Linked DNA regions of Homo sapiens. The protein of the gene in region 2 purifies or fractionates together with the protein of the main gene of each other region. This does not show direct contact. Each region holds a gene or a part of one and is shown on either strand. Other genes may lie near its edges. The genes, in order: LYAR, SRP9, MTHFD2L and MTHFD2.

Region 1 (7,026 bases), on a different chromosome or scaffold from region 2:
AGAGGGAGTTGGGGAGCCAGGGAAGGAAAAGAGGACTCTATTTAGATCCAGCCCCATGAAAAAACTGCTGTCTTTTTACACTTAGGGCTAGATGTTGAAATCTGTCACATCTGAGCCCGGCAGACTGGGTGTCCTCAAAATCTTAATGCAGTTTTAAGCTTTCATAATTTCAGAAGCATAAATGATCCAAACTTGCCAAAACATCATTTAAAATTTAATTAAGGCCGGGCGCGGTGGCTCACGCCTGTAATCCCAGCACTTTGGGAGGCCGAGGCAGGCGGATCACGAGGTCAGGAGATTGAGACCATCCTGGCTAACACGGTGAAACCCCATCTATCTCTACTAAAAAATACAAAAAATAAGCTGGGCGTGGTGGCGGATGCCTGTAATCCCAGCTACTCGGGAGGCTGAGGCAAGAGAATGGCATGAACCCGGGAGGCGGAGCTTGCAGTGAGCCAAGAATGCACCACTGCACTCCAGCCTGGGCGACAAAGCGAGACTCCTTTCTCAAAAAAAAAAAAAAAAAGTTTAATTAAATTTCCTTCATGCTTATCTAGTCTTGTGGAATTTGAACAATACCGTTTTACTTTTTTGTTTTAGGCAATGTTTGCTGTCTTCCATTGGAGTGACTGAATTTCTACATGACGGCTTTTTGTAAGTTTGTAGTATTTACATTTTTGTTTTAGGCAATGTTTGCTGTCTTCCATTAGAGGGACTGAATTTCCACCTGACGGCTTTTTGTAAGTTTGTAGCATTTACGCTTACGAATATTAAGCCTGCACTAAGACCTGGGACACCCTGTCTGCTGTGCAGTTAGGCTGACTTTGAAGCTTCTGATGGTTTTGAGCTTTTCTTTGAAGCCCAAGCAAGTGTTTATGGCATAAATTACAGGTATTTTCGCCTGGGGCTAGGTTGGGTTTGAGGTGTAATCAAGGTGCTGGACTGTCCTCCAGGCTCTGAATAAAGGAGAGGTAAGCTCCTTACAGACATTAGCTCATTAGCCAAGCAAGTGGACACAGAGCTGTTCCCATTTCATGGCAAGTGTAAAAATCCGGAGGAAGGCAGGAAGAGACAGTTCTGACTTCCTGTGCAATCCACCCATTTGGCCTTAAACAAGTAAAGACCAAATGAAAATGATGTGAGAGTTATTTTTTAGCTGGACATGTAACCAGATTCTAATCACCTTCTGAATTGATATTTAATTACACTGTAGTGTGTAGCCGATCTCCAGAGAGATAGAATGTTTGGCACAGTTACTCTTGAGTATCTTTTTGTCAACATCACTGCTTTCACTGCTTCTTTCAGTCAATATATTTTGTTTCCAGCTTCCTTCCTAGGCCTTTAATTCCTGCTGGGACAGGAATCTCTCAATTCACTCTTAAGCCTTGTCGAAACCTTTCTTCCTCCCATCTCCCACTCCATCCAGAAATAGAATTGTCCTCAGCAACAGAGGTTGGCAAGCTCTAAGCCGTATCTAAGTTTCAGAGACTGTTTTTTGTTGTTGTATCTTATTAGAAAAGTGCTTTAACGTTTTTCAGCAGATAATTTGGCATATCACGGCTGCTTTCACCTTGTGCCTGTGATGACAATCTATTTCTTGGTGACTAATAAGTTATTCCTGCTCTTACACCAAAGTGCACCTCCATGCTCTTTGAGAATGTGATGTTGGCTCTTATTCCAGCCTTTGTTCTCCCTTGTCAGGCAGGATAGCTGCTCTTGTTGCCTGACATGTTGATCATCCCTCTGCCTTTTTTTAGAATGGTAAGCTTTGAGGGAGCTGGGTTGTGGGAAACGTGATTCCAGCTCCCAGGAGCTTGACAATATCACACATCTTTACAGTAAGCAGATGAGAAGATGACAGTTGCTGCAGCACATCGAGGGTAGTCATGTTTTCCTTCCTGAGGATTTGGTGCTAGGTTGTAGCTGACCACATGCTGTCCGTTTACTAACATACACTGATAGTGAGCTGAGGAGCGGGGCCTGGGACCGCGGAATCAGGGGTCTGTGGTTTGTATGTAGCGTAGAAGCTGAGCTGATGTCTGATAGTGTCCCACAGGGCAAGAGGCCTCCACAAGAGACCAGCTGGACCTTTGTGAACCCTGGAGATGCAGCCAGGATGTACATTTCCATTCAAGGCTGAATGGACATGAATAACCTTGGTCGTTGCTTGGGTGTGGCCTCACTGGCAGTGATCCAAAACATGCTGGTGGAGGAGCAACGGTGATTTCATGCATGGGAATTCTCTGCAAACCAAGGGTAGATCATTTGTACTGAAAGCTTGTTGGATGAAGTCCTACCCTGAAGTAAATTGCATCGGTTTACTTGACCCTCACCTTTATTTTCCTAATGAGGAAGAAAGCTCTGGGTTAAACAGTTCTCAGTATTTTTGCTGTAAAACTTATAATGTAAAACAACAATGCTGTTTTAAAATCTAGTGATTAAAAATTATGTAAGTATGGAAAATTACTGTGACTTCTCTAACACTTCTAGACGAATTTGTGTTTTCCTGAGCACGGTAGCATTTCTGTGAAATTTTACAATGATGTTTATGTGCGTGTGCAGACATACTTCTTTTTGGGGCAGTGCTCGGGACACCTGGGTTTGTGAACTCCAGTAATTCAGCACCCAGCAGTTGGGACACCTGGACTTGGTTCCGTTTCTTTCTGACTTGTCTGACAAGCTGCCACATGAAGAAGGCCCCTGTCCATTACAGCTGAGGCGCATGTCCTCATTTTAACCTTTGTAGATATATAGTAATATTGATATGAATGCTTTTAGTGCCATAGAAATTGTGCCCATAGAATTGCCTCTTCTTCACTTTCTAAACTTCACTCAGTTTTCCTCTTGCTGTGTTCTTAGTATATTTGAGGACCTGAAATAGTTTGTAGTGTACACCTAAATTGCAATGCCTTCTATAAGTTTCATATACAGAGAGAGAGTTTAAGGTATTATGGAAAGTAAGATTTAACACCCTCAAAGCTCTTCATCTTGAGAGCCAATCTGCCAGGTTTAAATCCTGGTTCTGTTAACCGTGTATCCTTGGGCAAGTTATGTAATCTCTGTGTCTCAGTTACCTCATATAAATTTTGAACAATAATAGTCCTTCCCTCATAGGGTTACTGCGGGGATTGAATAAGTGAATAAATGTAAAGCCTCTAGAATAGTGCCTGGCACGTGGTAAGGACACAATAAATGTTAGCCATTCTCATTGTTAATGTTAGTTTTACTTATATGAATGGTGGAATTTTATGTAGATTGCTAATCAACTTTGACTCTGTTATTTTCATGTGAAATTATGGTTGAAAAGTTAGGGGCATGAGCCATTTATTGAAATGAGAAGTTTCAGTTTATAATTATAATTGTCTTTTTTTCCTTAGGACAAGACTTAAAACCTGTCTTGGATAGAGAATATTTAGCCATTTACCTAAAAATGGTATTTTTTACATGCAATGCATGTGGTGAATCAGTGAAGAAAATACAAGTGGAAAAGCATGTGTCTGTTTGCAGAAACTGTGAATGCCTTTCTTGCATTGACTGCGGTAAAGATTTCTGGTAAGCTTCACAGAATTCATGTAGATCCATAGTAAATCCAGATCAGTTTTGGAAGCCTTGGCGCCACAAAGCTTGGAAAAATAGTGGCAAATTTGAAGAATGAAATTAAGACTAAAAACTGGTATGTTCCATTGATTAAAACTGGTGTGATTCTTTCAAATGTGCTTTACTAGGCCGGGCGCAGTGGCTCAGGCCTGTAATCCCAGCACTTTGGGAGGCCAAGGTGGGTGGCTCATGAGGTCAGGAGTTGAAGACCAGCCTGGCCAACATAGTGAAACCCTGTCTCTACTAAAAATACAAAAATTAGTCAGGCGTGGTGGTGGGCGCCTGTAATCCCAGCTACTCGGGAGGCTGAGGCAGGAGAATCGCTTGAACCCAGGAGGCAGAGGTTGCGGTGAGCCGAGATTTCACCACTGCACTCCAGCCTGGGCAACAGAGCAAGTTAACCCCTTCTTGGGGGGGAGAAATGTGCTTTACGAAACAATTTGCTTTTTGAGGATATGTTAAAGAAAAGACTAGGGGAAGGGGAATTATGATGATTAGAGTGTTCAGTCAGTTGGTGACACTGGTTGCTATTGCATTGCCACTGTTTACAGACCCAGGGAACTAACTGCGTGGAAGATGGCTCCAGGGGTTTAGAGCCAGTTTCATTAGACCATGGGTATCACATGCCCATCACAGTGGAGAGATGGACTTATGAACCAGAAAGTGAATTTATGAGCTCACAGTGGGGCAGATGACTGGTAGCAGAGGAAACTATGTCCTCCCTAGAAAATCAGAGGTGCTGGTGGAAGTGAGGCTCTTCCTGGCCCCACGGGTGTGTCAGGAGACACTTCCACTGAGGAGGCCTCTGTGAATGTGAGGAGTTAGCGGGGAGGGACAGGACAGATCCTGCCTTAGACACCGGTTCTTCAGGTGGGTCGTTTGCAGAGGGCTCCCCTCTTGAATTTCATGTTGATTCCCCTTCAGCCTCAGAAGGTCCAGGCGAGAAGCTGGCTTCTGGCTGCATCTGCCCCAGTGTCCTCTGAGGCATTCGGATGGTACTGGCTAATACTCTCTTTTAATTCATTCTGGAGCAGTGATTTTTTTTGGAAACTGCTAACCTCTGTTCAGACGTAATCCTAGGAGGAAGCTTGATATATAAAGTAGGTTAAAATTGAGTTTTCATTAGGGGACTTTGCCCTGGACCTTGTCCCCAACATTTCCCTGAAGAACCCCATAGAGCTTTACAAAGATTATATGAGAGAGAATTTAGTTTTCTTTTTTCTCAGGACCCTAAGGGATCCAGAACTGTTGGTAACCTCATGCTGCCATTTTATATCTGTTTTTGATTTATTCTACAACTAATTATTGACTGTCTATTAGACATTGAGATTTTTATAATTTAAAAAAACTACCCTATTGCATAGAACTATTTTCTTGTTTATTCAGTATATGTACACTTATGACTTAAAAAAATACTGCCTATCAATTTAGCTTAAGGTGTTTATAAAAATGGGGGAAAAGTTTGGTGATGGGTTTTATATTGACGACTTTGGAGGAAGGGGGATGTGGTTCTGACCAGGAGGCTGTAAACATAATAAGTGAAATAGATGGGGTGCTTGTGTGATAGACACATGTGAAAATATACAGTGTAGACCACAGAAGATAGTGGCAGCATGCTGGTATTAGCGCCTCCAACTTGGGTATCAGTCTAATGGCAGAACTTTTGATCACTTTAAAGGGGCGATGACTATAAAAACCACGTGAAATGCATAAGTGAAGATCAGAAGTATGGTGGCAAAGGCTATGAAGGTAAAACCCACAAAGGCGACATCAAACAGCAGGCGTGGATTCAGGTAACGTCTCTCTAACTCATTGAGTAGCTTCCTCTGACAGCTTCCGCTTTCTTTGGAAGCCCAAGAGACTAAGAGTAAATGTGTCATCCCTGCAGACAAGCTCTGGAAACCTCATGTCCTAGGATAGACAGGTTGAACTAAAACCTCTTGAAAAAGAATTCTTTGGCTGGGCATGGTGGCTCACGCCTGTAATCCCAGCACTTTGGGAGGCCAAGGCAGGCGAGTCACGAGGTCAGGAGTTCAAGACCTGCCTAGACAACGTGGTGAAACCCCATCTCTACTAAAAATACAAAAAATTAGCCGGGCATAGTGGCGGGTGCCTGTAATCCCAGCTACTCAGGAGGCTGAGGCAGGAGAATCGCTTGAAGCCAGGAGGCAGAGGTTGCAGTGAGCCGAGGTTGTACTGGGTGACAGAGTGAGACTCCGTCTCAAAAAAAAAGAAAAAGAAAAGAAAGAAAAAAAGTTCTTTATTCTTCTAGCTGTTAAAACAGTTGCGGTGCATTATACCTTTAATCCATGTGTTTTGTTAATTTCTTGAAAAAAAAGTTTTAGAATTCTCATTAGCTTTCCCTTGGCTGTAAAACTAAATGGAAGCTTCTAATCTCTCCCTGCTTCTAGTGATAATGGAGCTTTTATAACTCAAGCCATGTTAATCTGTCACATCTGCCAGTCATTAGAATTAGGCAAAATAAAGATACTTTCGTCAATGCAGAGAATTTTCTACTTAACTAAAACAGCATGAAAACATGCACAGTAGAAATGGCAGAAACATTGACTCCCTAATTCACTGGGAAGTATAACTCTCAGAATGCTACTGATCATTTACAGAATAGGTAGCAGGAGGAAGGATTCAGAAAGGAAGGTGGGATAATGAAAAGACGGATGTCATCTATTGAAAATTCTGTGTTTTTCTAAAAACCAATAAAAAGTAATCGTTCCATTTGATAATAGAGTTGGAACGTGAATTTTTCAGACATTAACTAGCTTACTGAATGAGCATACTACTGGGAGGGTATTTCTGTTCACAAAGGACTTACTAGAGCAGATTGAGAAGCTAATGAAATCCTGTTTGCACTGGTGACCAGCAGCCACACTTTTGAGCACTCTCTGTAATTCTCTAAAAACCAGATGACGTTCCTAGACCCTAAGGTTGAGGTGCATGGGTCTGTGAGTTCCGTCTCTGCTGCTGTCACACTCGATGAAATCCTCTGAAGCAGGGGTCAGCAAACTACAGAAACTTATTACAGCTTTGTAATAAGTTTTGAAATCAGAAAATATGAGATCTGCATTTTTGTTGTTCTTTTCAAGATTGTTTTGGCTATTTGGTATCTTTTGAGATTCCCTGTGAGTTTTAGGATGGATTTTTCTGTTTCTGTAAAAACGTATATATACACACACATTGGATTTTGATAGGAATTGTATTGAATCTGTAGATTGCTTGGGTAGTATTAACATCTTAACAACTTTAAGTCTCCCAGTCCATGAGTACGGAATGTTTTTCATTTATTTGTGTCTACTTTAATTTCTTTCAGCAGTGTTTTTTGGTTTTCAGTAAACAAGTCTTTTGCCTCTTCAGTTAAGTTTATTCCTGATTATTCTTTTTGATGCTGTTGCAAATGGAATTGTTTTCTTAATT
Region 2 (7,139 bases):
TCCAGTGGTAATGCCATCTTCAATTACAGCAATACAAGACAGAGTGGTAAAAAGATACTGGGTATAATCAACAGGTTAAATGTGTTGCGGAGAGAAGACAGAGAATTTTGGAAAACAGATTCCAGAGACCTGACAAAATTTGTTCTTTAGCCCTAGCAGAAAGAGAATGGACTTGGGGTTCAAAGATCTGGGTCCAAATTTCATCTTAATCTCTCAAGAAACTAGGTATATCACTTAACAGATATAAAATCATTCATTTATATACTTTGATGGGTTGCTGTAATTGTTCATATATTATGTATAAATCTATGTAAACACACATAAATATATATTAAATGCCTGTAACATATAAACATATGTAAAATGCCTGTCACGTAGAGGCGGAGGTTGCAGTGAGCCAAGATGGCGCCACTGCCCTCCAGCCTGGGCAACAAGAACAAAACTCCATCTTGGAAAACAAACAAACAAAAAAAACTGTTAAGCTCTTCCTCTACACTCATCCTCTCCCCTCTCAACATATCAGTCAAGCCAGGCGCCATGGCTTGTGTCTGTAATCCCAGCTACTTGGGAAGCTGAGGCAGGAGAATCACCTGAGGCAAGGATTTAAGACCAACCTGGGCAACAAAGCAAGAGCCCCGTCTTTAAAAAAAAAAAAAAAAAAAAAAAAAATTAGGCAGGCATGGTGGCATGTCTGTAGTCTCAGCTACTCAGGAGGCTGAGGTGGGAGGATCACTCGAGCCCAGTTCAATGGTGCAGCGAACTGTGATTTGTGCCACTGCACTCCAGCCTGTGCCAACTGCAATTTTCTGACTGGGTAAGAGGTGAAATATTCTCTTTCTTGTCTATTCTAGACATGCTTTGCTCACAGTGATGCTCTAATTATTTTCATTTTCCCTACCACTGCCATCACATTCTTACAGTACAGTTACTCTTGATGTGAATTTATATATTCTTTACTGTTGTCTCAAGTATTTTTAGTTTATACTGTGGGTACTTCTGGATAAAAGTCCTGTGTGGTCTCAGAGTAGCATTGTCTGAATGAAGAAACAAATGACCCTGCCAACAAGGGAAGCTAACCAAATGAAGCAACCAGAAGTCACCAGTGTTATAAACAAATTACTCAATTTAAAAAATACAATTTCCATCATTTATTATTGTATCATTTTATTGTAAAAAATAGAAGTATGTTTTACAGCTTGTTACTTAGCTAGGTCTTTCTGTGGGTCTAATACTATTTTTAATCATAATTATCAACATTTCTTGCTGCACACTTTAAACTTATATGCACTATAAACTGTATGTGGCATTGGAGTTACAGGTTACCAGCTCACTGCATACACTTAAAACATAATTCATATTACTTAATGATCATCAATAGTTTCACACAGTAAATCCTGAGCCCTGGGCTGGGCGCAGTGGCTCACACCTGTAATCCCAACACTTTGGGAGGCCAACGCGGGTGGATCACGAGGTCAGGAGTTCCAGACCAGCCTGGCCAAGATGGTGAAACCCCGCCTCTATTAAAAATACAAAAAATTAGCCAGGTGTGGTGGCAGGCGCCTGTAAACCTAGCTACTCGGGAAGCTGAGGCAGGAGAACCGTTTGAACCCAGGAAGTGGAGGTTGCAGCGAGCTGAGATTGAGCCATTGCACTCCAGTCCGGGCGACAGTGCGAGATTTCGTCTCAAAAAAAATAAAACTATTGAAAAAAAAAAAAAAAGATCCTGAGCCCCGGTTTTCCGAGATTTTATCTGCTTTTAATTTTCTTTCTTCTCCGAGGGATACAGTCACAATACACTGGATCTATAATACCCTCCAATAATACCAGCTCCTTAAGGGTTGAACGGAATCTCATTCACCTTTGTGTCTCCCACAGAACCTAATTTAACTTGGGGTCAGTAACACGAGAGTGGGAAATGAATGCAGCATAAAAGAGATAACTGAGTTACAACAAACACAAAACAAAAGAAGCATCATACATAACCAGGTCTGAGGTTTTCAGTATAAAATCCCTTCAATATGCTGAGTTCTAAAAAGAAGCAGAACTTTTAATTAACACGAAGATGCTTCAAATAATTCTTAGACATGACAATAAAATAACCAAAACCTCAAGAGACGAAAAGTAAGACCCGAATGCTAAACTCCCATCACTTGGACTCCTTTGCTTTTTAATAATGAGCTAACCTCTGACATCCACCTCCATTATAATTTTTGTGGGGGCTAAGAATGTATTTCAGAGGTCCATGAATCCCTTAAAATTGTTTGCAAACATTTACTTATACATTTACTTATACCATTTTTCTGAGGAAAGGTGCAAATATTATTCTTATGGTCCCAAAGCCTGTGACTCCCAAAATACTAAGAACCAATATTCTGGGGGGTACAGATGCTTCCAAATTGGAATCTTTCAAGAATGTCTGAGCGGTAGTAGAAAAAACATCATCAGTTTTATATACATGAGGTACCCTTACCGCCTAGGCGGTACAGGAAAAGTGAACCAAGACAAAGGACAGGAAGCTGCAGGGGGAGGAGCCCTGGCTTCAGGGACTCGTAAAACAACCGAAGCCATAAAGGAAGCTGAGGGACTGGGGCGGGAAGATCGATTGCAGAAATGTTTAGGGCTGAGATGAACCTGGCTGTTGCCAGCTTCAGGGCCTCACTGGGCCGCTAGATCAGGGAAGAAGGGGACGAGAGAGCAGAACATTAACTTGGCAGGGTCCATTTGTGTTCATTCCCAGCACCTCCTGGGAGCGCTGGGGAAGCTCCAGGGGCCGAGTGGATGGCGGGAAGACATCCTGGGCTGGGGCCCAAAGCAGCGGCCCCGCCAGCGATTTACCTTCATAGGGTCAGCGAGGTAAAGCTTCTCGGCAGCGCGGCTGAACTCCTCCCAGGTCTGGTACTGCGGCATCGTGGCCTAGAGTGGAAAAGTAAAGAGAAGCAAGGCCTCAGAACCCGGCCCAACAAACTACCTACGTCCGGGAGTCGCCAACCGACGCGAGTCCCAGCAGCCCCAAGATGGCGGCGCCTCCTCGCACCAACGCCTCGCTCCATTGGACAGCCCCGTCCATGCTCGCCCAATGGGCAGGAGGGATGTTGTCAGGGAGTGGGCGGAGCCCAGGGCGTGTGGCTCGAGAGCTGAGCGAGACAAGCGGAGGGCACGGCAACCAATGCCGGCTGCCACAGCGCCCCCGGTAGGGCTGAATGAGTGGCGTCCGTCCCGTGGCCCTCAGGGCTGAACCGCAGCTGCCTTCAACAAAGATTAAGCGGCTCTGCGATAGTCGCTGCATATACGAGGAAGGAGGCGACAGGGCCCAGCTGTCACACAGCTTGGTGAAGAAGCCAGGAGACATAAACACAAGAGTGCAACGGAAAACTTTATATGATAAACATTTATGTCGGGTTAGTGGAGCGCGAAGGAAGAAGGATCTCTTGTGGGTGGGGGGAGACTCACAGAAGCGGTGCAAGCTCAACAGGTAGGCAAGGAAGGGCAGAACACGTAGGCCCATTTTAGATCTGCAGTGTATGTCAGATGACTGGTGTTTAGGAGATGAGGAAGAAGCCATATTATCACTTCTGCAAGGATAAAAAATCTGATCCTCCAAGCAGGAGGATCGCTTGAGCCCGGGAGTCCGAGGCTGCAGTGAGCCATGATCGCGCTACGCACCCAGCCTGGGCTTCAGAGGAAGACGCTGGCGCAAAAGTAAATAAATAAAGAAGATGGCCTGCAGGGGACACCAGGTAAAGGGTATTATATTTTGAGATGGAAAGATTTTGTGCATGTTTATAACTTTTAGAGAAGGACACATAAGAGATAGAAAAATAAAAAATACAAGAGAAAGAAGAAAGCGAGGTCTCGGGAAATATGAAGGGGAAGACCAAAGGCCCAGATGAATAAAAACAGGTGCATTATTGCCTTTGATGGGGTGAGGAGGAGGGAAAAGTCGGGTGAGGGTATAGGTGAGCATGTAGATACGAGGGCAAGAAGGTACATTTTCTTGTCACCTAAGACAGGAGACCACCTTCGTAAATAGGAAGGGTGGTTTTGGATCTTTGAGGAAGCAAGGATGGGTTTGGATCCTTGAGGAGAAGGTTTGGAAAAGCCATTGTGAGAAATGAATAAGGAAGCCTATTAGAAAAAAACAGGTGGGAAGCGGTGGTGCACACCTGCAATCCCAGCACTCTGGGAGGCTGAGGTGGGCAGATCACTTGAAGTCAGGAGTTCAAGACCACCCTGGTCAACATCGTGAAACCCCATCTCTACTAAAAATAAAAAAATTAGTTGGGCTTGGTCGTGGGTGCCTGTAATCCCAGCTACTCTACTCGGGAGGCTGAGGTAGGAGAATCTCTTGAACCCAGGAGATGGAGGATGTAGTGAGCCAAGATCGCATATCACTGCACTCCAGCCTGGGCAACAGAGCAAGACTCTGTCTCTAAAACAACAACAACAACAACAACAAAAAAAGAAACTCAAAAGCAATATGTCAAGTAGAGTAAAAAGCTGAAACTGGAGATCATATCTGGGAATAGCCCCAATTAGGGTCTGTCTCCAGCAACACCCAGAAGCTTGGATTTTGGACTGGAAAAGACAGATATTAGGGATTTATAGGGTACATGAGGAAGAAGAACAAAGGGTCAAGAATGTTGTAGGTGGTACTGGCAAGAGAATGATTGAAATGATAAATTATGGGATCCATGCTAGATAGCTGGTAATTAATTGAGTCAAAAGAGAGAAGTTAAGGAACCAGGATTAAAGGAAATCTGAATTCAATATAGCAGGAAATAAGTTTTAGTCAGATTGGATATTGGGGTTTAACATTTTAGAGTAGCAATAGTCCCTGGTGAGGCTGGATTTATAGTTGGGTTGTCCACACAAAGTCAAAGTCTTCTATGAGTAAGAAAAGGAATAAGATGAAGGAGAAGGCTATGAGCCAGGGACCCAAATCCTCATTTAATGAGACACGTGTGTGTGTGTGTGTGTGTGTGTGTGTGTGTTGAGGGAAGCTATAAAGAGCAATGAGCAGAGGCAGAGAGGGCAGAGTTGGGCAGAATGACCCCCAGGTGTAGGGGTTTTTCCCTGAAGATGAAAACAATGGAAGTTAAGACAATGCCAACTTTGCCTTCTGTCACAAGGAACATAAGAGATCAGTTTCAATTCAATTCAGCAAAAAGTAAAACAAGTGTCCACCCTGGACAAACACCAGGAGCTGGGCTAGGCATTAGAGACCCAGCAGTGAACAAGACAGGCCCAGTCCCTGCCTCATAGAGCTCACAGTTATGGAGAGAATGACAGTAAAGAACAGATCTCCATTGTGAGGGTCCCCATCACTGTGAGTTCCAGCATCTCCAAGCTTAGCCCAGCCTCAGCCCCTACAGAGGCAGAGAAATCAAGATAAGGAAGAAGTTATGGGAATTGCCCTTGATTATGCAAATGTCCCCAGTCACACTAGGATGCATTCTTTTTTTAAAAATTTAATTTTAGGTTCGGGGGTACATGTGCATGTTTGTTACATGGGTATATTGCATACTGGTGGGCATTAGGTTTCTAGTGTACCCATCACCCAAATAGTGAGCATTGTACCCAATTGGTACCTTTTTAACCCTTTCCATCTTCCCACCCTCCCCCTTTTGGAGTCACCAGTGTCCATTATTTCCATCTTTATGTTGATGTGTACCCGTATTCGTCCATTCTCATACTGTTATAAAGAACTACCTGAGACTGGGTAATTTATGAAGAAAAGAGGTTTAATTGAACTCACAGTTCTGCAGGCTGTACAGGAGGCATGACTGGGGAGGCCTCAGGAAACTTAACAATCCTGGCAGAAGGGCCAAATCAAGTGCTTGGAAGCCAGCACTTCTTCACGTGGCAGCAGGAGAGAGAGAGAGAGAAGGGGGAAGTGCTACACAATTTTAAACAACTAGATCTTGTGAGAACTCACTCACTATCACAAGAACAGCAAGGGGGAAATCCACCCCCATGATCCAATCACCTCCCACCAGGTCCCTCCCCCAACACTGGGAATTAGAGTTCAACATGAGATTTGGGTGGGGACACAGAGCCAAGCCACATGAGTGCCCATTGTTTAGCTCCCACTTATAAGTGAGAGCATGCTGTATCTGGTTTTCTGTTTCTACGTTCGTTGACAGGATAATGGCCTTCAGCTCTATCCATGTTGCTACAAAGGACATGATTTCATTCTTTTTTTTTTTTTATGGCTGCTGGATGCATCCTTTAAACTAGGTTATTCCTTTCCTGCTGTGGCTTCTGAAAGGCTATCAGAGAGTGTCCTTTATAAATTGCTCACACATGCACAATGTCAGAAAAGGAAAAATTCCTTTCATTCCCAGTCAAGAAGATCAGGGCCTCTGTACCCTTTGTGGTTATCCTTTCTGCTTCATTTTCACACACATATCTTATTTGAGCTTTCAAACAACTCTGCCAGGGTGGTCAGTGAGCCTTATTACAATTCCAAAAATCTGAAAAGCTCTGGAAAACAAAAGTATCTTGGTAACTCCATTAGTAGAAAATGACCTGACCTCAAGTAAGGTTGCTTAGTCTTTATTTGTTTCACTTGGTGTGTTTGGTTCCAGGGTGGGGCACAGACCCTGCTGGTGGTATTATGTAATATACCACATGTGCACTGTATCACCTTTCTAGGATCCAAAAGGCTGTGAATTCTGAAATACGGGTGGCCTCAAGGATTTCGGACAAGGGATTATAGTCCTGTGCCACTCTCCTTTACAGGTGATGAAGAAACCAAACCTGAAAAATAAGTGACACTAAACAGATTGGCCCCAGACTTTGCTCCGGATTGTCCAGCAAATGGCAAAAGCCAGTGGATGTTAATCATAACCGGAAGTGACAGGATTAATTTTGATTTTTAGAAAGTGTAACTAGTAGAAATACAGAAGCTAGATCGGTAAAGCAGAGCCTGGGTGCAGGGTCAAAACCAAAAGCCCTTGCACTTTTCCTTATGTTCACCACCTCCCGCGATTGTGTTCATGTCTTTGCCTCCCATTCCTGATCCCATTTCTGATCCCATTTCCCATCCCATTTCCACTGTATCTACCCTCTCACCCCAAAGTTGCTTTCATGGGTTCACCAGCTGACTATTATATTACCCACTCCAGCAGACATCTCTC
Region 3 (7,026 bases), on a different chromosome or scaffold from region 2:
GGTCTTTATGGAAGTTTCACCTTTCTTTGTGTCGCACTGGCATCGGCTGTATAATTTTTGCAGCTAGACCACATTTTAAAAAAATCTACATTTTTGGAACTAGTAAAAGATACTTATTTGTGTTATTTAAGTATTCACGTCTTTTACCGTGGGTAGTTAAGTTTAATAATTTAAAAAGACACATTTTATCAGTAACAATGTTCATTTTATTTTTCAGACTCTTCCCTCTACTACTTACTCTGTATTTCTGTCTCTTCTAATGACTAGGAAAGGCAGTTTCTCAAAATCATCTTCTATTTAGTTGGCAAATGTGATAATGTGGGTAGTGTTCCTACCTTCCTGCTGTATGTGTTCTACTGAAATGAGATATAATAGCCATCTGGCTACAATTTTGATTTCTAAGAAGTTCTTATGTCATTTTAAATTCAAAAACTAAGTGTTTCAACATTTGGTCTCTCATATCTTAAGTTTTATTTTCTTTGTTCCAGCTGTTCAGAGATAGTGTGTTCTAATATCTCCACAATCAAGATTTTTGACTAAAATGGATCAGTACATGAAAAAGAGGGACTAGTATTAATTTTAGATCTTGTTAGTTAATCATGGTCTTACTAATAATTTGGCAAGTTCTTTAATGAGCCAAATCTTTGTATTTCAAATGCCTTGAAGTTGTTATTCTTTCCTATTAGTACCCTGATGGGAGGATGAAAACAGCAGAAAGGAGCAGCACCAGATGATCTTTTCATGGGCACGTACTCTTTCAAGGAATCCCATGGAGCTCAGTGAAATTACACTTTGGCTTAGAGATAATTAAGTTGTGGAAGGAGGTTTAAGAGAGGAGCTTAGGTGAAATTTGAGCTGTAAATGAGTATGCTAAATTAAAGAAATGATTAGTAATAAATGAGATTTGCTATTAAGAAATTCACTTTGGATCTGAGACAACATTTTACATACAATGTAGAAAACTTTATGGTCAGAACAGAACACAGTCTGAACCTAAATTAACAGTAGTGTTAAAGAATTCAGGGCGGGATATTATCCAAGAAGGCCTAGCCAGCTGCTCCACTTAATGTTACATCACAAGTGGTTTCTGTGTTGCTATTGTTTTTATTAGCATTTCAATGACTGTGTCATATTACATTAAATCAATTGGCTCTAACTTACCTAACCATCTTGCTGCTTTTTATTGTCTAGTTCTTGGAAAATATGTAATAATTTACTCTCAGATTGAGGTCATGTCCTTGTCAATGTCATACCAACCAGGTTTGTTCACTGCATCATCTGAACGCTATGTAGGTTTCTATAATTAGGCTCATTAGAGTGTTCCTAGATCCAAAGACTATCTAAAGATCTAAAGATTCATAATTCTAAAGTGAGGGTGTGTGTATAGTTTACAACAGATGTTCTCTCCCCACTTTTTTTTTTTTTTTTTTTTGCTGTTTGTGATTAACTGGAACTGCAATGAATGCCATCATGCTTTTAAGGAATTCAGTTGTATTGTTGAAAAATACAATTTTCTTAATATCTAAGGAGCTCTTAGTCAGTGGTAAGCACTTTGCTGAGATTTTGCATATACAGTATGTCCTTCGATCCTCACAACAACTAAAGGAAGTAGATAGACACTATTACTATTCCCAGTTAACAGATTGAGAAATTGAGGCTTAAAGAAATTAAACTTGTCAAGTTGACACAGTAAATACATGGTGAAGACAAGGCTTGAACCCACATCATCTTTCCGGTGTTCTTCTCTACAAGCAGTTTATAATTATTGACTTATCTTACTTTTTCTTCTTTTTGAAACATTTATTAATATTAAATCTCATACAACTTTTGTGAATCTAGAAAGCTAATTTTGCATGTAAATTTTAAAATTATTTTGTTAGATTCCCTCAGTTTGAGATGTTCTTAACCTGGGACCTTATGGATAGAATTCAGAGGATCCATAAACTTGGATTGGAGGTTACTAACTTCTGATAAATTGAGCATTTTTTTTTTTCCATTGTTAGTGTTGGCAACAAATACATAATATCATCAGTACATGTGACTTGCTAATATAATTTACAGATATTTCAGTATCACAAAGTTGAGGCAGATACCACAAAACATCATCTGCACATCACTATTTTGTTATGGTAGTTAGACCTACCACTAGATCCTGTTATTTAATACTTTTAAAAAAAAGCATTTGATAATATTTCAGTAAAACTGGTTTTCCTTGTAATCTGTATTTTATATTGAATGTTTAAAAGGATTGTTCTGAGAAAGAGTCCACAGGTTTCAGCAGATAGGCCAAGAGCTTTTGTGGCACAAAGCTTAGCATCTAAGGTTCTTTCTGACAAAGTTAGTTTGAAAACAATGGATATTGTTTAGTACAGAGTCAGAAAGTTAACTAGTTAAAAAACTGGATACGAAGAAGAGTCATATATAATGAAAAGGTATTTTACTTTTTATTGATTTGCAGATGTAATTTCTAGTAAAATTACTTCAAGATGTGAATAGGGTACTTGGGGTATGAAACAAATTTTTTTAAAGAGGTCATAAACTTAACACTTGCAGGTATTCATTTATTTTAATAACACACTTCAAAAGACTCCCTATACTGGTGATTGGTTTTATTCCCTATGGAATTTTGCCCTGTTTTTGGGGGGTTTCATTTCTATTGTACAAACTCAAGACATCGAAGATATGCCCTAAGATATAAAGCAATTAAACTGTATGTTAGGGCCTGGGTAGAGCTTGGAATTGTTAATCATTCTATTAGGATTTTTCGTCTTTTTTTGTTTGTTTGTTTTGTTTTTTGTTTGAGGCAGAGTCTTGCTCTGTCACCCAGGCTGGAGTGCAATAGCACGATCTTGGCTCACTGCAAACTCTGCCTCCCGGGTTCATGCCATTCTCCTGCCTCAGTCTCCCAAGTAGCTGGGACTACAGGCGCCCGCCACCACGCCCGGCTAATTTTTTGTATTTTTAGTAGGGACGGGGTTTCACCGTGTTAGCCAGGATGCGTCTTGATCTCCTGACTTCGTGATCCGCCCGCCTCAGCCTCCCAAAGTGCTGGGATTACAGGCGTGAGCCACCATGCCTGGCCAGGTTTTTTCAACATTATAGAGATAAAATGGTTCATTGCAGCTCTAGTTGAAGTCGTGAATAAAGATGAGATTGAAACTAAGATATGGATTTGCCAAGTATACGAATTAAATAAACTCTTGATCTTGACTAGGTTTTATTTGTTGGTAAGCTACTTTTTTGTGGAAGAGTATTTTGATACATAGAAATAATCCTCCCCCTTTGTTATTTTGCTCTAGTTTATTAAATAAATCATTTGATTCTAATAAGCGTAGATAAGGTGGTTAGTTTATTTTCTGGAAGTACAAGTAAACAAGCCCATGGAAACAGCACTAAGTGCTGAAGACTTTCTGCTCTCATAATGTTTCTGGTTATCGAAATATGTCTCCATCTGTAATTTAGCAGAAACTAAGAGAAAGAGCCACTTTTGCAAACCAGCCCATGAACTTTTAGCCAAATCCTCTTATGTAATGTAAGGTCAACAAGAGAGTATTCCCATTATATAGATGAAGAAATTGCATGCCGTTGAGAGAAGCTAAGTGACTTGCCTAACTTTATTATTGCTACTAATGGTAACCCAGAGCTCTGATGCTCAGGACTTCTAATTTCAGGTGAGTAGTTTGTACTACATAGTGCTGCCCTGCTACTCACTAGCCACCACCTCCCTTCTTTAATTTTTGCCTCCTGATGAAGCCACATTTCGTGGCTAGCCCAGCAGTAGGCTGGGCTTTTGGAAGGGAGGGCACCTTTTCTTGCCTTTAGGGGAAGGTCATTTCTGCCTTTGTGGGAAACCACCTGAGCAAGTAATGACAGGGCACATCATGTAAACAATATCTAAGGGGTCAAATGGATTTTATTTTTGATATGCATTAATGGCAAGGTCACTATGTAATTTTTTTGGCCAAACTAGCACATTTTTTAGAGTAAAAAGGGGCACGAATGTAATGAAAATTATATATTTGGAATATCTATTGGCTTACAAATATATTAGTGAACTTATAGAATAGTTTCAGACCATTTTCAAAATTAACATTTTAAAAGATAATTTATATCCTTATGTGTTAAAATAAAAATTTATATTACATGAACATTCAGCATGAACAATTATTCCTGGTGCATATTCACATGCTTGAATCAGTTTCTTAGCTGTATCTTTTAACACCTTGATCCTGATAATTTTCTGAAAAAAGTTAATAAGATCTTATGCTTTGTTTATTTTTTTTGAGACAGAGTCTTTCTCTGTCACCCAGGCTGAGTGCAATGGTGTGATCTTGGCTCACTGCAACCTCCGCCTCCTGGGTTCAAGTGATTCTCCTGCCTCAACCTCCCGAGTAGCTGGGACTACAGGTGCATGCCACCACGCCCAGCTAATTTTTCTATTTTTAGTAGAGACGGGGTTTCACCATATTGGTCAGGCTGGTCTTGAACTCCTGACCTCGTGATCCACCCGCCTCGGCCCCTCAAAGTGCTGGAATTACAGGCGTGAGCCACTAGGCCCGGCCCTTGTGCTTAATTTTAAAATTAAATTTTCTGCAATTTTCTTAACAGTTGCAAATAGAATCTTTGCTTTAGACAATGGTTATTTTAGTTTTAAAGGTACTGTCTCTATAGATGCTGAAACACCACATAAACTGCTAAATGGAACAGTCTTAATTCTACATTTTGCACATTGAAATGGGAAGATATTTTAGCCTAAATATTTTCACAGGTGCTATGTTGGTGTATCTTTTCAAAGTACTTTTCTTTGACAAATATTTAGATAAAAGAAATAAGTTGTTTTTGTGTATGATTTTAAAAATAGTTTACCATATTTAGATAGGGGAAAATTAAAGTTTTTCTCAATTGTATTCCAATGTTTTACAAAATGGTAATTTATTCCAGGAAATTTTATTCAACAAAAAATATGAGTTCCATCAGAAGATTATTCTCAGACATTGAACTATTTAAAATTGCTATTATAGATGTATTTATTTACTAATTCTGCTGTATACAAAGTTCCACAAACTAGCTAGCTTGAAACAGCAGAAATCTGTTTTCACACTGGAAACAGTGGAAGGAGGCTGGAAGTCTGAAATCAAAGTATCTGTAGGCCCACACTCTGTCGACTAGCTTCTGGTTATTGCCAGCAGTCCTTGGTGTTCCTAAGGAGTTTGCAGCTGCATAACTCCAGTCTTTGCCTCTGTTGTTAAATGGTTGTCTTCCCTCTCTGTCTTCACTTCCCTTTTTATGTGTCTCTGTGTCTTCTCTTGTAAGGACAGAAATTAAAATTACTTGTGCATTGTTTGAGCTATGATTTTTTAAATTAGTTTACTTCTTCCCTTCCTTTTGAAGAGATAAGGTTTCTGTTTGTAAGCTTTGGTTTCACTGATTACAATTCACTAAAAACTTTAAATCTGAAGGTGTCCCTACTCCCATTTGGTCTGTTTGTTGAATATGTTGATTAATAATGACCAACAACTTTTGAAAAAAATGCAACAAGTGTTGCCCATCCCAGTGCCAGGCCAGCCCCCACAGACACAGCTTGTAGGCCAGTCCTTGCAGACCCAGGCTCTAGGCCTGCACTAATGCCAGGGCAGCATCCAAAGATTCCAGCTGAGCCTCTGCAGACTTAGGCATCAGGTAGAAACTCATGGACCCACACTGTAAGCCTGCCCCAGTACCAGGTCAGCTTCCATTAATTCAGGTCCAAGCCTATCCCCAGGGACCCAAACTCTGCACCCAACCCCATGGTTCTAGGTACCAGGTCTTCCCCTGCAGATCTAGGTACCAGGGCCATTCCAGAGGACCCTGGGCAAGCCTAGTCCCCACAGACTTGGGACCAGACCCATTCCAATGCCAGGCTGGTCCCCATGGACTCAGGCTCAAGACCTACCCCAGTGCCAGGATGGCCCCTATGAACCTAGGCTTCAGGTCTGTATTTGCAGACCAAGGCTCCAGGACTACTCCTATATACCCAGTTGACAGCCCACCCCAGTGGACCCATGCACCGGATTAGCCCCCTGTGAGTTGAAGCATTAGGCCCACCACCTGCTGACCTAGGCATCACCTGCCAACTAATCCAAGGGCTTTAGCAGCAAGCCCACCCATGGGCCATGCCGGATGGCCCATCAAGAATCTCTAGATCCACTGACTGGTGAAGGGCTTTCCCTGCTGAAGCCAGTTTAGAAAGACTGGAATAGGCGCCTACTTCTTCAAGCGATAGACAGCAATGAAAGGCCACAGGCTTGTGAACCATTAGGGAAACCTGGCACCACAAAAAGAACAAAATTAACAATAATTGACATAAAGAAATGGAGAGCTACAGGCTGCCTATCCAGAGAACACAGGTAGACAACTAGACAATATCAGTGATTTAAAATACTACAAAAGGGTAAAAACCAGGTACTGTGGGAGCTCACAGCAGATTCCCAGGGTACAGGGTTGGGAAAACATCACAAGAGTGTTTTATAAGCTGAGACTTGAGCAATGTGTGGGACAGACTTGGCAAAGTGGTTGGAGAGGTGAGAAAGGGAAGGAAGAGTGTTTCAGGCAGAGGGAATATTATATCTGAAGATCTGGAGAGAACATGGTGCAGTTCATGAATTAAAATATGACTGGTGTGTAGTGCGCGACTCACTAAGCACAGTGTTCTTTAACAGTGAGGCTAAAGTAGCTCATGCAGAAGTGTGTAACCCATAGGGGATTGGGATTTTAGTTAACTTTTTCCCCCAATTTCTCAGGTCAGAAATGTTAGAGTCATGTTTGCCTTCTGTTTTTCTTTTTTTCATATCCTACACCCAATCTCAGTAACTCCCAAGGGTTCCACTCTCAAAATAGATTCAGAATCAGACTACTTAGCACCTCCATGGCTACCCCTTTGCCTAACTCCCCATGATCCCTTGTTTGTTATACTACACTAGCTTCTTAGCTGGAGTCTCCACTTCTCCCCTTGATCTCATAGAGTCTATCCTTCATATTTTCACCAGT
Region 4 (7,026 bases), on a different chromosome or scaffold from region 2:
TTGGCCTCCCAAAATGCTGGGATTACAAGGCCTGTGCCACCATGCCCAGCCCTGGGAATTTTTTCTAAACACATCTGTGAATGCATTTAATTCTGGGATAAATGTTAGCTAATATAGTTACAATTTTGGATTCCCCGTGGGACTTAGCTGACTCTCCATTTCCCTGTTTATTTTGGGGTAGCAGTTAATCTGCCCCTTGGCAAAAGAGATGATGCTAAATTAGTTAATGACTCACTCCCAAGGCTGTATTTCACATTTTGCAGAGTTGTGGGAAGCAGAGGAGGGCTGACAGTTATACTATGAAAGATATTCATTGCATGTGACTTTGTTTTTGGTTCTTGTTACTCTTTGACTGTTTTTCTTTCTTTTCTTTTTTTTTTTTTAAGCAAATTGGCATAACATCCAGAACCTGCTTTTGGAAGCAAAGTTTGGGACTTGGAACACTGGCTTTTCCCAGAACCCTGTGTCCTTAACTTCAGTATATGATTTTATCTGAATGTGCTAATACCATTTTCTCTAAGTTTACTGCTTTCAAAAGAAACTTTTTATGAGGTGCAAGCTAAGTCATTCTCACTGACTAGATATACATATAGTGTATATACTTATATATATCTCCTTATGTGTAAGTGTATCTATTTTAAGGATACATGTGTATGTGTGTGTATATATACATATATATATAAAACCAAGAGAAAAGAGTAAGAAATTAGTTTTATTGAACATATATGCCTGGCACATTATATATGTTTGTTATTTCATTCAACATAAATGACTGTTCTAAGCCGTTTTAAAGTAGTCTTTCACTCTGTAGTGTTCCAGGATTAGGAATGTATTTTTGGCCTGCGGTGGGCATTCCAGGTACTAATACAAATCAGGAATGAGGAATGTTGCCAGGTGTATTTGTATCAGCAAAACCCCCCTATTTTAATTTTTTTTTTTTGAGATGGAGTCTGACTCTGTTGCCCAGGCTGGAGTGCAGTGGCACGATCTCCGCTCACGGCAGTCTCTGCTCACTGCAACCTCTGCCTCCCGGGTTCAATCGATTCTCCTGCCTCAGCCTCCCAAGTAGCTGGGTCTACAGGTGCGTGCCACCATGCCCGGCTAATTTTTTGTATTTTTAGTAGAGACGGGGTTTCACCATATGAGCCAGGATGGTCTCAATCTCCTGACCTCATGATCTGCCTACCTTGGCTTCCCGAAGTGTTGGGATTACAGATGTGAGCCACCATGCCCGGCCTGCAAAACCCTTTTAATGAAGTCCTCTTCGACTCTAATTCTGAAATGGAATTGTGAATATTAATATGTTTTCAATTTCTTCATATACCATGGGTATAATTAAATGCTATTATATGTTGTGCCATGCTAGTATTATATAAAATCAGGGTAAAAGTATTTGATTTGCTGTAAGATTGTAACTTTTTTCTTTTTTTGAGATGGAGTCTTGCCCTGTTACACAGTCTGGAGTGCAGTGGCGTGATCTTGGCTCACTGCAACCTATGCCTCCTGGGTTCGAGATATTCTCCTACCTCAGCTCCCGAGTAGCTGAGATTACAATTACAGGGTCCTGCCACCATGCCTGGCAAATTTTTGTATTTTTAGTAGAGGCGGGGTTTTGCCATGTTGGCCAGGCTGGTCTCAAACCCCTGACCTCAAGTGATCTGCCCACCTTGGCCTCCCAAAATGCTAGGATTACAGGCATGAGCCACCGTGCCTGGCCAGATTATAATAATTTAATACTTCACAAGATGCAATACAGATTAAGATAAAGTTTATATATAAGATTATTGCATTATATCTAAGATGTTGAGATTTGGTTTAAAGTTGGTATTTAATCATAATGCAATAAAAAACACTTATTGAAGGCCTAAAGATTGTGAAAGCTTTAAAATCCCATTTAAATTAGCAGTTACTGGCCGGGTGCAGTGGTGGGTGCCTGTATTCTCAGCTATGGAGGCAAAAGCTGGAGAATTGCATGAACTTGGGAGGCTGCAGTGAGCTGAGATTGCTCCAGCCTGGGCAACAGAGCAAGACTCTGTCTCAAAAAAAATAAATAAATAAATTAGCAGTTATCTTGAGAATTAATTTTATCTGACCCTACAGGATATTCAGTACCTTGATGTTAGGTTTTAGAATATAAGAGGAGATTACTTCATTGGTCTTGAGGTTAGAGCAGTCTTCATGACACCAAGGACAGAGATCTAAAGGGAAAGGCTTTTTTTAATGGGATCATTTTACTTAAGGAAGAGATGCTCATCTAGTTTAGTTTAGTTTAGTTTAGTTTAGTTTAGTTTAGTTTAGTTTAGTTTAGTTTAGTTTAGTTAGTTTAGTTTAGTTTAGTTTTTTGAGATGCAGTCTTTCTCTGTCGCCCAGGCTAGAGTGCAGTGGGGTGATATCAGCTCACTGTAACCTCTGCCTCCTGGGTTCAAGCAATTCTCCTGCCTCAGCCTCCTGAGTAGCTGGGATTATAGGCGCGCACCACCATGCCTGGCTAATTTTTGTATTTTTAGCAGAGACGGGGTTTTGCCATGTTGACCAGGCTGGTCTGGAACTCCTGACCTCAAGCAATCCACCCTCCTCGGCCTCCTAAAGTGCTGGGATTACAGGCTTGAGCTACCACGCTGGGCCAGATGCTCATCTTTAAGTAATGGGCACTTTACTGTAAGGACATGTGTGAAAATAGGAAAACTGGGACTCTTCCACATTTGGGTTTCATGGAACCCAGGAAGAGTTGCATAAGCAGTTCTCTTTGGGAAGAGACAGCCTTTCGGGCAGCTGAACATGGTTTTGGGAACTGGAGGTTCTTCTAGATCCTGATTTTTCTTCTTGCTCCCCACCTCAGCAACAGTTTTCTGATTTCTTGCCCTGTTGTCTCCCATTGGTGTGACTATTATTCTGCCTATTCTTTCTGTCTTTGTTCTGTGGTTCTAGTTTGAACTGCCTCAGGGACGAGCTCTTACTGGTTCAACTAACTCTCACTGCTCTGTTGAGCTAAGCTTTTGCGCCAACTGGACCACTGGCCAGCCTAGAGATTGTTGCCCTTGGCGTCACATACTCACTCCTGGTCTGTCAGCTTTGGATGATATGGTGGGGTCCCTGGGAAGAGCACATTGCCAACTGTGAGAAGGAGCTTCCTCCAGTCCCCTGCCCTGCCCCTATTCTTACCAGGAAAGTCTTCCCCAGAAGGGACTGTGGGGAGTGGTGGTCATTTTGATGTTTGACCTGTCCAGTATGTTGTTTGTTTGTTTGTTTATTTTTGAGACGGAGTCTAGCTCTGTCACCGAGGCTGGAGTGCAGTGGCACAATCTCAGCTCACCGCAACCTCTGCCTCCTGGTTTCAAGTGATTCTCCTGCCTCAGCCACCTGAGTAGCTGGGATTACAGGAGCCCACCACTACGCCCAGCTAATTTTTGTATTTTTAGTAGAGACAGGGTTTCATGTGTTGGCCAGGCTGGTCTCGAACTCCTTACCTTGTGATCTGCCCTCCTCGGCCTCCCAAAGTGCTGGGATTACAAACGTGAGCCATCGTGCCCGGCCTATATTGTTTGTTTATTCAACTACAGAATATAATTTATCGATTTAAACCACCATAAAAATGAAGTCAGTTGACTGGGAAATGATTTGAAATACATGCCTGGCTGCTAACAACAGGGACAAAACACGAACTACAAATGGCATATAAGCAGATAAGAAAAACTATTTAACCTCATGGTGAGGGGTCAAACAATTGCAAATTAAAACTGTAAAACACTTAGTAATGATCAGGGCGCAGGGTGGTGTAGCAGTTAAGAGCCCAGACTGATGTGAGACTCAGCTTGACCAAGCGCTGTCAGTCACTTAAACTCCCTGAGCTTCAAATTAATGATAATAATGATTTCTATCAACTTTATCCCCCTCCATATGTAGCTGGATATATTCATTCATTTATTTATTTATTTAGCAGAGACAGGGTTTTGCCATGTTGCCCAGGCCAGTCTCAAACTCCTGGGCTCAAGCCATCCTCCTGCCCCGGCCTCCCGAAGTGCTGGGATTACAGGCATAAGCCACTACACCTGGCAGAGTTTTAGTTTTTATAAAAATTCAAGTTATTTGGTTTTGTGACTCTGTTGCCTTCTGCAGAAATGAAGCTGTTGTCATTTCTGGAAGGAAACTGGCCCAGCAGATCAAGCAGGAAGTGCGGCAGGAGGTAGAAGAGTGGGTGGCCTCAGGCAACAAACGGCCACACCTGAGTGTGATCCTGGTTGGCGAGAATCCTGCAAGTCACTCCTATGTCCTCAACAAAACCAGGGCAGCTGCAGTTGTGGGTATGTGTCCTTCTGAGACCTCGACTGCGGTTCAGTTGAGGTTTATATGAGGCAAAGTCCATTCTAATTTATGATTTCTTTTTTCTGATTAGGAAACCCAAGCAGAGGAGGCTAATGTGATTGAACTGTATCCCAAAACTTTGTCATAGGAAATCAGACTATATCTTTCGGGGTTTATACAGTAGGACAGGAGATACTGGTTGGTATTCTCTGTGGCTTCTGGAAAGAATATAAGCTACATTCTGTTCTTAGTCTTTATATTTGATAGGTGACCCTGAATGCATTTTACATTTGCTTTCCTTGAGCAATAATGGGTCTCCAGTGGAGGTGTTTGAGTGTTTGCAGCTTAAAGCCTTAGAGGCTTAGGGGGCATGATTGAGCAATACAGTATTAGGTGACCTCAGTGATGAGGTCAGGAACACAGTCGTAGATTTGAAGGAAATGACTCTGACTTCTGGGAAATAGCTTTCAAGTTCTTCACCGATTGGTTCTAAAGCCAAACATGCAGTTTAGAAGCAGTTCAGGTCTGGATGATGGGGTTTGTGTTCTAGGTCTCACGGTACCACAGATTACTGTGTCTCTGTGGACAAGAGGTGGGTGGGCAGGCTCAGATATGCCTCTGCCTGCCCATCTGTGGGCCTGTGGTCTGAGCAGCAGGTGGCCTTTCCTTCGAAGGGCTGTGAAACCACTCGCGTGGCTGGGTGGGGTTACTGGCCTGTAAGCCTGTGGTTTTCTCTGTTCTTTATTATTGAGGAGTGAGGCCTCCTGCTCTTTTAATTGAAAGCCTTTAGAAACCTCTAGATAATGGCAAGCCATGGCATTTTGTTTTGTTTTTTGAGACGGCATTTCGCTCTTGTTGCCCAGGCTGGAGTGCAACGGCGTGATCTCGGCTCTCCGCAACCTCCGCCTCCCGGGTTCAAGTAATTCTCCTGCCTCAGCCTACCGAGTAGCTGGGATTATAGGCATGGGCCACCATGCCTGGCGAATTTTGTATTTTTAGTAGAGATGGGGTTTCTCCATGTTGGTCAGGCTGGTGTCGAACTCCCGACCTTAGGTGATCCACCTGCCTCAGGTGATCTGCGCCTGCCTCAGCCTCCCAAAGTGCTGGGATTACAGGCGTGAGCCACTGTGCCTGGCCAAGCCATGGCATTTTAAGACATTGGGAGGTAGTGTGGTGCAGAAAAAAAGAACATGGATTTTGGAACCAGAAAGACTGGCTGTATTATTAGCTCGCTTATTTATTTATTTATTTATTTAGAGACGGAGTCTCGCTCTGTTGCGCAGGCTGGAATGCAGTGGTGCGATCTCAGCTCACTGCAACCCCCGCCTCCCAGGTTCAAGCGATTCTCCTGCCTCAGCCTCCCAAGTAGCTGGGACTACAGGCGCGTTCCACCAAGCCTGGCTAATTTTTTGTATTTTTAGTAGAGACGGGTTTTCACCGTGTTAGCCAGGATGGTCTCCATCTCCTGACCTCGTGATCCGCTGGCCTTGGCCTCCCAAAGTGCTGGGATTACAGGCGTGAGCTACTGTGCCTGGCCTAGCTCGCTTATTTTTAAACCTCTCTGAGCCTCAGTCTGTCTGTAAAATAAGGTTAATGAAGATTGCATAGAATGAGGTATACAGGATGTGTTAAGCTAGTATTCTCTGGTGTATATATTTGTGAAGTTACTTTTTTAGGTTCCTTGAGCTACTTCAGCTTTTAGGGATGAGTGTGATGATACAAAACCCGTATGGTAGCCAAGTATGGTAGGCAACATAGCAGTGCTCATTAAATGCCTCAAAAATTTTTTTAACCTCAAAATTTCTTATAATAGGAATCAACAGTGAGACAATTATGAAACCAGCTTCAATTTCAGAGGAAGAATTGTTGAATTTAATCAATAAACTGAATAATGATGATAATGTAGATGGCCTCCTTGTTCAGTTGCCTCTTCCAGGTGAGTTTTGGACTCCATTTAACATGATTGCTGCTGCTTCTGCTCCTTTCCCTCTCCCTCCCTCTCTCTCTCCCTCCCCATCCCCCTCCTCCTCCCTCTCCTTTCCTTGTCTCACTCTGTCACCCAGGCTAGAGTGCAATGGTACAATCATAGCTCATTGCATGCTCAAGCTCCTGGGTTCAAGGGATCCTCCTGCCTTAGCCTCCCAAATAGCTAGGACTATAGGCATGTCCACCATGCCCAGCTAATTTTTACATTTTTCCTAGAAATGAAAGTCTGTCTGTGTTGCCTGGGCTGGTCTTGGACTCTGTGCTTCCCAAAGTGCTGGGATTACAGGCATGAACTACCATGCCCTACCTAAAATGGTTTCTGAGGGGTAAAAAGGCCTTGTTACTTTATACACCTGGTTCTTCATGTGGATTTGGCTTAAAGGCAAAATAAACTCAAAAGAGTGAATATTTTATTAGAAATGGGACAGACCAACTCAGAATACCAATTACGCCTTGATTTAGTATTGTGGTCTTGATACAAAGGACAGTGGAGGGAAGCAGCTGTGATAGACGATATTGGCTTTGCTATTGGTGTTTGGCTTTGCTTATGCGAGTTCCTTCCATGCAGATGAAGTACATCTCAGAGGCAAGCTGTAGAAGAATAGATTTCCTTGCGAAGCAGATAAGCTGGAGTCAGGCAGTGCTGACTATGCGGTGGTGATTTAAGGCAACTGTGCCAATTTCTTTTTCAGAGCATATTGATGAGAGAAGGATCTGCAATGCTGTTTCTCCAGACAA

Evidence for each region.
Region 1: the proteins of SRP9 (region 2) and LYAR purify together in Homo sapiens (co-immunoprecipitation; 2 studies listed by BioGRID and IntAct, with this or other methods). This does not show direct contact.
Region 3: the proteins of SRP9 (region 2) and MTHFD2L purify together in Homo sapiens (affinity purification with mass spectrometry; 2 studies listed by BioGRID and IntAct, with this or other methods). This does not show direct contact.
Region 4: the proteins of SRP9 (region 2) and MTHFD2 purify together in Homo sapiens (co-immunoprecipitation; 3 studies listed by BioGRID and IntAct, with this or other methods). This does not show direct contact.

What each region holds. Positions count from the first base shown.
Region 1 is NC_000004.12:4,280,147-4,287,172, reverse strand, and holds part of LYAR (cell growth-regulating nucleolar protein), read left to right. Parts: intron 1-600; 5' UTR 601-654; intron 655-3,377; 5' UTR 3,378-3,430; coding exon 3,431-3,552; intron 3,553-5,275; coding exon 5,276-5,390; intron 5,391-7,026. UniProt on the Homo sapiens protein: Plays a role in the maintenance of the appropriate processing of 47S/45S pre-rRNA to 32S/30S pre-rRNAs and their subsequent processing to produce 18S and 28S rRNAs. Also acts at the level of transcription regulation.
Region 2 is NC_000001.11:225,773,709-225,780,847, reverse strand, and holds the start of SRP9 (signal recognition particle 9 kDa protein), read right to left. Parts: upstream 3,023-7,139; 5' UTR 2,908-3,022; coding exon 2,836-2,907; intron 1-2,835. UniProt on the Homo sapiens protein: Component of the signal recognition particle (SRP) complex, a ribonucleoprotein complex that mediates the cotranslational targeting of secretory and membrane proteins to the endoplasmic reticulum (ER).
Region 3 is NC_000004.12:74,161,094-74,168,119, forward strand, and holds part of MTHFD2L (bifunctional methylenetetrahydrofolate dehydrogenase/cyclohydrolase 2, mitochondrial), read left to right. Parts: exon of another isoform or gene 1-686; coding exon of another isoform or gene 687-734; exon of another isoform or gene 735-1,160; intron 1,161-7,026. UniProt on the Homo sapiens protein: Bifunctional mitochondrial folate-interconverting enzyme that has both NAD/NADP-dependent methylenetetrahydrofolate dehydrogenase and methenyltetrahydrofolate cyclohydrolase activities.
Region 4 is NC_000002.12:74,201,589-74,208,614, forward strand, and holds part of MTHFD2 (bifunctional methylenetetrahydrofolate dehydrogenase/cyclohydrolase, mitochondrial isoform A precursor), read left to right. Parts: intron 1-4,116; coding exon 4,117-4,301; intron 4,302-6,115; coding exon 6,116-6,238; intron 6,239-6,980; coding exon 6,981-7,026. UniProt on the Homo sapiens protein: Although its dehydrogenase activity is NAD-specific, it can also utilize NADP at a reduced efficiency.